2 linked regions of the Homo sapiens genome follow. The protein of the gene in region 1 interacts with the protein of each later gene in a pairwise test. Each region holds a gene or a part of one and is shown on either strand. Other genes may lie near its edges. The genes, in order: SOX8 and MMP1.

Region 1 (3,034 bases):
GGGGCATTCATCCCTGAAGCCTGCTCTCCTGTCCCCAGGGCAGACCCACGGGCCGCCCACCCCGCCCACCACCCCCAAGACGGAGCTGCAGCAGGCGGGCGCCAAGCCGGAGCTGAAGCTGGAGGGACGCCGGCCGGTGGACAGCGGGCGCCAGAACATCGACTTCAGCAACGTGGACATCTCGGAGCTCAGCAGCGAGGTCATGGGCACCATGGACGCCTTCGACGTCCACGAGTTCGACCAGTACCTGCCCCTGGGCGGCCCCGCCCCACCCGAGCCGGGCCAGGCCTATGGGGGCGCCTACTTCCACGCCGGGGCGTCCCCCGTGTGGGCCCACAAGAGTGCCCCGTCGGCCTCCGCGTCGCCCACCGAGACGGGTCCCCCACGGCCGCACATCAAGACGGAGCAGCCGAGCCCCGGCCACTACGGCGACCAGCCCCGAGGCTCGCCCGACTACGGTTCCTGCAGCGGCCAGTCCAGCGCCACCCCGGCCGCCCCCGCCGGCCCCTTCGCCGGCTCACAGGGCGACTATGGCGACCTGCAGGCCTCCAGCTACTATGGTGCCTACCCTGGCTACGCACCCGGCCTCTACCAGTACCCCTGCTTCCACTCGCCGCGCCGGCCCTACGCCTCACCCCTGCTCAACGGCCTGGCCCTGCCGCCCGCCCACAGCCCCACCAGTCACTGGGACCAGCCGGTGTACACCACCCTGACCAGGCCCTGAGGGCCCAGCCGCGGGGAGGGACTCGCAGGCGTCAGGGGGCAGCCTTGTCCCGGCCCAGTGTGTGTGACCAGGGCGGGAGGGGCCCCAGTGGCTGAGCTCCAAGTGCCTGCTGAAGTCTGCAGGGAAACACGCTTGCTGCCCGTGGCCCTCGGCCTCCAGATGGCCACACCTCTGCCGACGACGGACCAGCTCCCTCTCCCTTCTATCTTTCTTTTTGAGGTGGTGGGATTATTCCACAAAGAAGGGCTGCCGTTTGGTCCCTCTTCCGTGAGGACTGGCGGCACCAGCACCTTCGCTTTGCATCTCGGTAGAGGAGAAACGGCAGCACAGCCCAAGGACCAAAGGAGGGGGTGGCAGGGGCCTTGCAGGGCGCTGTGAGGTCCAGGCCGGTCTTGGCGCCGAGAGCCCCTGCACTCAAGGCCACATTCCCTCGACAACGGCTGCACGGGCTGTCCGGGATCCGGGGTGTCTGTCCGCAGACTGGGATGAGTCTACTCGAGCATCTCCGGGACCTGCCTGTCAGATCTGAGGTGTCTCCTTGCTGGCAGAGTGCGCTCACGCGAGGGCTGGCTGTGATGAACACATCTCTCTTTTATTTTTATGTTTTTGATAATTTTTATTTTTGAAGCTTAAATGTGTTTCTTCTGAAAGCTGTTAAAGATGTATTTATGTTCTGTGTTATTTTATCTTTAATTAATGAGGTAATTCGGGCAAAGAGTAGAATTTAAGACAAAACGGAAGCTGGGAAGCTTCCCTTGAGGGCAGGCAGGAGGTGGAGTTGCAGCTGTTGGCCGGCATCACGTTGCTCGTTGCTCGGCTTATGGGAGGCCGCCCTGGAGGGCCCGGAGGTCCCAAGGTCCCTGGGAGGACTGGGCCCCTCATGCCTCGAGCTTGGCAACCGAAAACCCGAGGGAGGAGAAGGGACCTGCCTTGTGACATCTCTGATCAGGTTGGGGTGCCCCAGCACCCAGTACCAGTTTGGGGTTTGGGAAGCAGGACTCCGTCCCTGTCCCCGACTGTGCCACGTGGTAGGACACATAGGACACAGGAATTCCTGGGTCCTTGCCCATGACTGTGCCATGTGGTAGGACACAGGACACAGGAATTCCTGGAAAGTGGTGGCTTCAGAAGTGATCTTGGCTCGCAGGCACCAGTGCCACCTACCAAGCTGTGAAACTAAACCTTCTCCACTAAACGTCGTTAGGGCCTCAGTTCTAGACGAGTCATACCTGATTCACCTGCACTGCTTCCCCTGTGTGCTGAGCATAGAGCATACAATAGCGCCTACTTCACGGAAACTTGTGCCTTTAAACTTTGTAAACTTAAACACAGCCGAGAAGTTGCTTCTTTGTACTTTTTCTACTTTTCCTACTTTTTTGTAGAAAAAAAAGATAATGCCTCTGCTTCTATTTCTCTGGGGGTGGGGGTGGGGGCCGGGAGCCGTCGCAGACCCGTTTCATGCAGCGTCTCCCTTGGCACCGCGTTCGGAGGACGCACCCTCACTCCCCTGCTGCCTTCACTCCTTTCTGACCAAGCAACGCTAACTTTTGTACAGATCGATTTGATAAAATTAAACAAAGTGCTTTTTATGGACGTGGGCTGCATTTTGTGTGTTGCTTTGTGTGAGCCTGGGGCTCCCGGGGTAAAGATGTCCGGCAAAGGCAGGATCAGGCCGTGCCACGCGGCCGCCGGCCTCACCCCAGTGCCCTCCACGCTGGGCGGCAAGGAGGGCGGCCGCGAGCCCACCCGGACCCCCGAGCGGCAGGGGCAGCCCGTCGTGCCACCAGGCGTCAGCAGGCTTCAGTCAGAATGGAAACAGCCATGCCCTTCGCGAATCCCGTCGCGGCCTCTGGGAACCGAGCTCCTCGTCTTCCTTCCTGGAGGGCCTCCTTGGTAGGCAAAATGGGTCTGGACGGGCCCGATTCGGGGCTGTGTTTTTCCTCCCAGGCGAATCCCAGAGCTGGTTTCTGGGTGGCTGTGCAATGCCAGGAAGCCGACGGCATCTTTCGGGCCTTGGCATGGAGCCAGGCTGGGAGCGGATGAAAGCGCCCCGCAGGAGCCGGCAGAGCTGTCTGGTTGGAGGAAAGTTTCTAGGGAGAAAATGGCTGTGGGAGTGACAGCCAGTGAGGGGCAGCCGGTCCCTTTGCCAGGTCTCCCGGGCACCTGAGGCTGGTGCGGGGGCGTCTCGGGGCTGGGGGCCACCCCTGGGGTGCAGACACCCGGCTTCTCAAGGCATCTTGGTCGGGGGTGGCAGAGGATGCACTGCTCACAGGAACCCAAATTCGAAAGACAGCCGCATCTACAATTTTA
Region 2 (3,195 bases), on another chromosome or scaffold:
TCTTCTTTGTGATCTGCATTTGTAATAATAACAACATTCACCACTATGATTAACTATTATGCTTCACATGTTACTTATTTCATGCTGATTTACATCTATAATCACATGGTAGCAACCACATGCATTTGTGCAACATAATGTACTTGTAACAACTTTGTTTTTCTACATGTATTAGGTCAACTGATTCTCAGAAAATATAGTTGATTTTGAAAATCAGTATGTATGATCTTTTTTTACAGATTAGCAAAGTAAGTCAGAGAGAAGGAAAGAGATCTTTTGGGGGCATAGAGCTCATTGGTAGCAGAGCAGTTATTGGTCTTCTGTTCCCTATTTCAGGTCTCTTTTCATTATGCCACTCTTTATGGTGATAAGTATCATTGGACTTTCTTAGGAGAAAGTGGTCCTTTCCATAGCAACATCTCACTGATGAGGGTTGCATAGCCATCCTTTAATTATCTCCCCTGCCATCCTGGAAAAATGGCCCTCCCAAAGCCTATTAACTTGAAGGGTCTCTGTTGCCCCCTGGAGGCCCAGAGAAGAAGAGAAGAGAGGGCACCAATGCTGGGAAAGTCCCCAAGAACTGATGAAATCCCTCCTGGGACAGATAGGGGCAGCCACAACATGGTGCTTCCCTCTTCAAAGAAGAATCCTAGAACTCCCTCTGCAGCATGTGGACTCAAAAAGTTGGGGTCATCTCACATGCAAGGAGGAGGCCTGCTCTCTGTACCATAGTGATTCCTAAAGGATCAGGCAAAATAATAACACACTCTTTTGGTGTGTTATTGCACACCGCATTTGGTGAATGATGCAGTCCACAGAAAGATCAACACATAGAAATTCAGGGTGGCCTGAAAGGCTCATTCTCTGCAGCCTCTCAAGTGCTGTGGCACTGTTTTACTACTCTGTAGTCGCATCTCTCCTAGAATTCAGGGCACTGGCTCATAATTCTTTCTGCCCTCTCTTTACTTTTTAAGTGTAAAAGATAAGGCTGGAGGTAAACTATACAGGGTGTGGTTCAATGCTGGGACAAGTTAAGAAAACACATGGTTTTAAAGGAAACCTCTCAGTACAACAGGACACACCTATCAAACCAAATATTACTAGATGGAACAGGACCAATTTGAGGATTTGCCAGAATTGAAAGGACACAGAGATCATTTAAATGTCGCCATGTCGAGGAGACATGAAAGGCTAGAGATAGAGATAGTAACTGATTTGCCTAAGGCATCACAGCCAGGCAGAGGAAGGACTGGACCTAGAAGTCAGGTTTCCGACAGCCAAGGCCGTAGGCTTCCCTGTGGCCTGGAATCTGGAGCTCTTCTGTGTCAGCCCACATAACAGTCTATGCTGTGCTGTTACCCTAGTCCCTATTAAGCTCTATAATCCACTTTGTGTAAATACTACTAACCAAGGGACAACAAAGGGATTGGCTGCCAGAGCGGAGTTTAAAAATCAACCTTAGCCTCTTACCAGCTGGGTGGCCTTAGACACCTCCCTTAGTCTCCCCAACCTCAATTTCTCATCCTCAAATACTCTCTTGTAGTGTCCTTGTGATAAGGTCTGATGTAAGGAATGGGCCTGGTGTGTTGTAAGTAATCACTAAATAATAGGATATTAGAGTCATGGTCCAGTTGGTAATGTGCACAGCCGATCCCTAATGGCTCACCAAAGCTGACTGTTAAATTTTGAAGAATTTTGCAAGCTAGCTGTGAACCATAGCCATTATTAAAAATTAAATTATAGGCCAGGTGCAGTGGCTCACACTTGTAATCGCAGCACTTTGGGAGGCGGAGGCGGGGGAATCATTTGAGATCAGGAGTTCAAGACCAGCCTGGCCAATATGGTGAAACCCTGTCTCTACTAAAAGTACAAAAATTAGCTGGGCGTGTTGGCCTGTACCTGTAATCCCAGCTACTCAGGAGGCTGAGGCAGGAGAATCCTTGAATCTGGGAGGCAGAGGTTGCTCTGAGCCAAGATTGTACCACTACACTCCAGCCTGGGTGAGAGAGTGAGACTCTGTCTCAAAAAAGTAAATAAATAAAAAAGAGATAAAACTTAAATTATATAAACAAAATTAAATTACATTAAAATAAAAGGTAATAAAAATAATAAAAATTCATCAGTTTGTCATAATTTTTACTGCATTTTTCTACTTATTTATGTTCTTAAAGTTACTTATGCCTATTTTATTTGTATGCTATACAATGGTGCTCCACTGAGACTCTTGAAATTCATCATAATGGGAGTATTTCAAGCTAGTGAAATCAGCAAATGCTATAAACCAACCCTTCTTTGGAGAGCTGAATGTTATACATTTACCAGCACACCACTAGTGCCAGCAACAAGAAGGAGCTGGAGCTGGATATCTGCCAGAGATTACCAGAAATTAGATGGAAACTTTTCTTGCTTTTTTTCTAATCAGATTCTACATGCGCACAAATCCCTTCTACCCGGAAGTTGAGCTCAATTTCATTTCTGTTTTCTGGCCACAACTGCCAAATGGGCTTGAAGCTGCTTACGAATTTGCCGACAGAGATGAAGTCCGGTTTTTCAAAGGTAATCTTTCTAATTATTTTTCACTGCTTTAATAAATCAATTTTTCATTCCCTTTGGGGCTGAGATATAAGGTTACTAGCTACATTCTCTCCAGGGACTTTTGAAAATCTCAGTCTCACCAACCAAATCAATGAAAGTCCATCAACTTAACTAAACGGTGCGTAGCGCATTTTGGAGTCATTTTAAACAAAAGGCAAATGACTGGAGATAGAACGTTCTGGCCTTTTTAATGAATCTAGATTTACAAAAATATTTTCTGCACAAACTATGTATTTAAAACCCCCTCCATATTCCTGGGAGTACTCAAAGTAAAACTCGAGACACTATGCCACGCACCAATATTTTTGCAAACGTGTGTTTAACGTAGTACAATGAGTAAGACATTTGACTCAGCCATACACTCAAGGCAAAGAATTAAATGCAGGTCAGATGGGCCAAACGCTTTGAAACAGGATTTTTAGCCTTTAAATTATGAAATTAAATGGATGTTAGAGACAGAAAGTTTCAAATTCCTTTTTCATGAGGGGTAAATAGCACGTGTGTACAGTAACAGAAATCTTGGCTTTAGTATATGAGACCAGCTTTATGTGATGAGGGGCTTACTGAGTATAAACACGGAATCTGGACACAGCATTAATT

The links.
Region 2: the proteins of SOX8 (region 1) and MMP1 interact in a two-hybrid assay, tested with the Homo sapiens proteins (one large-scale study listed by BioGRID and IntAct).

The regions. Positions count from the first base shown.
Region 1 is NC_000016.10:984,663-987,696, forward strand, and holds the end of SOX8 (transcription factor SOX-8), read left to right. Parts: intron 1-38; coding exon 39-724; 3' UTR 725-2,317; downstream 2,318-3,034. UniProt on the Homo sapiens protein: Transcription factor that may play a role in central nervous system, limb and facial development. May be involved in male sex determination. Binds the consensus motif 5'-[AT][AT]CAA[AT]G-3'.
Region 2 is NC_000011.10:102,791,966-102,795,160, reverse strand, and holds part of MMP1 (interstitial collagenase isoform 1 preproprotein), read left to right. Parts: exon of another isoform or gene 1-13; intron 14-1,899; exon of another isoform or gene 1,900-2,016; intron 2,017-2,422; coding exon 2,423-2,556; intron 2,557-3,195. UniProt on the Homo sapiens protein: Cleaves collagens of types I, II, and III at one site in the helical domain. Also cleaves collagens of types VII and X.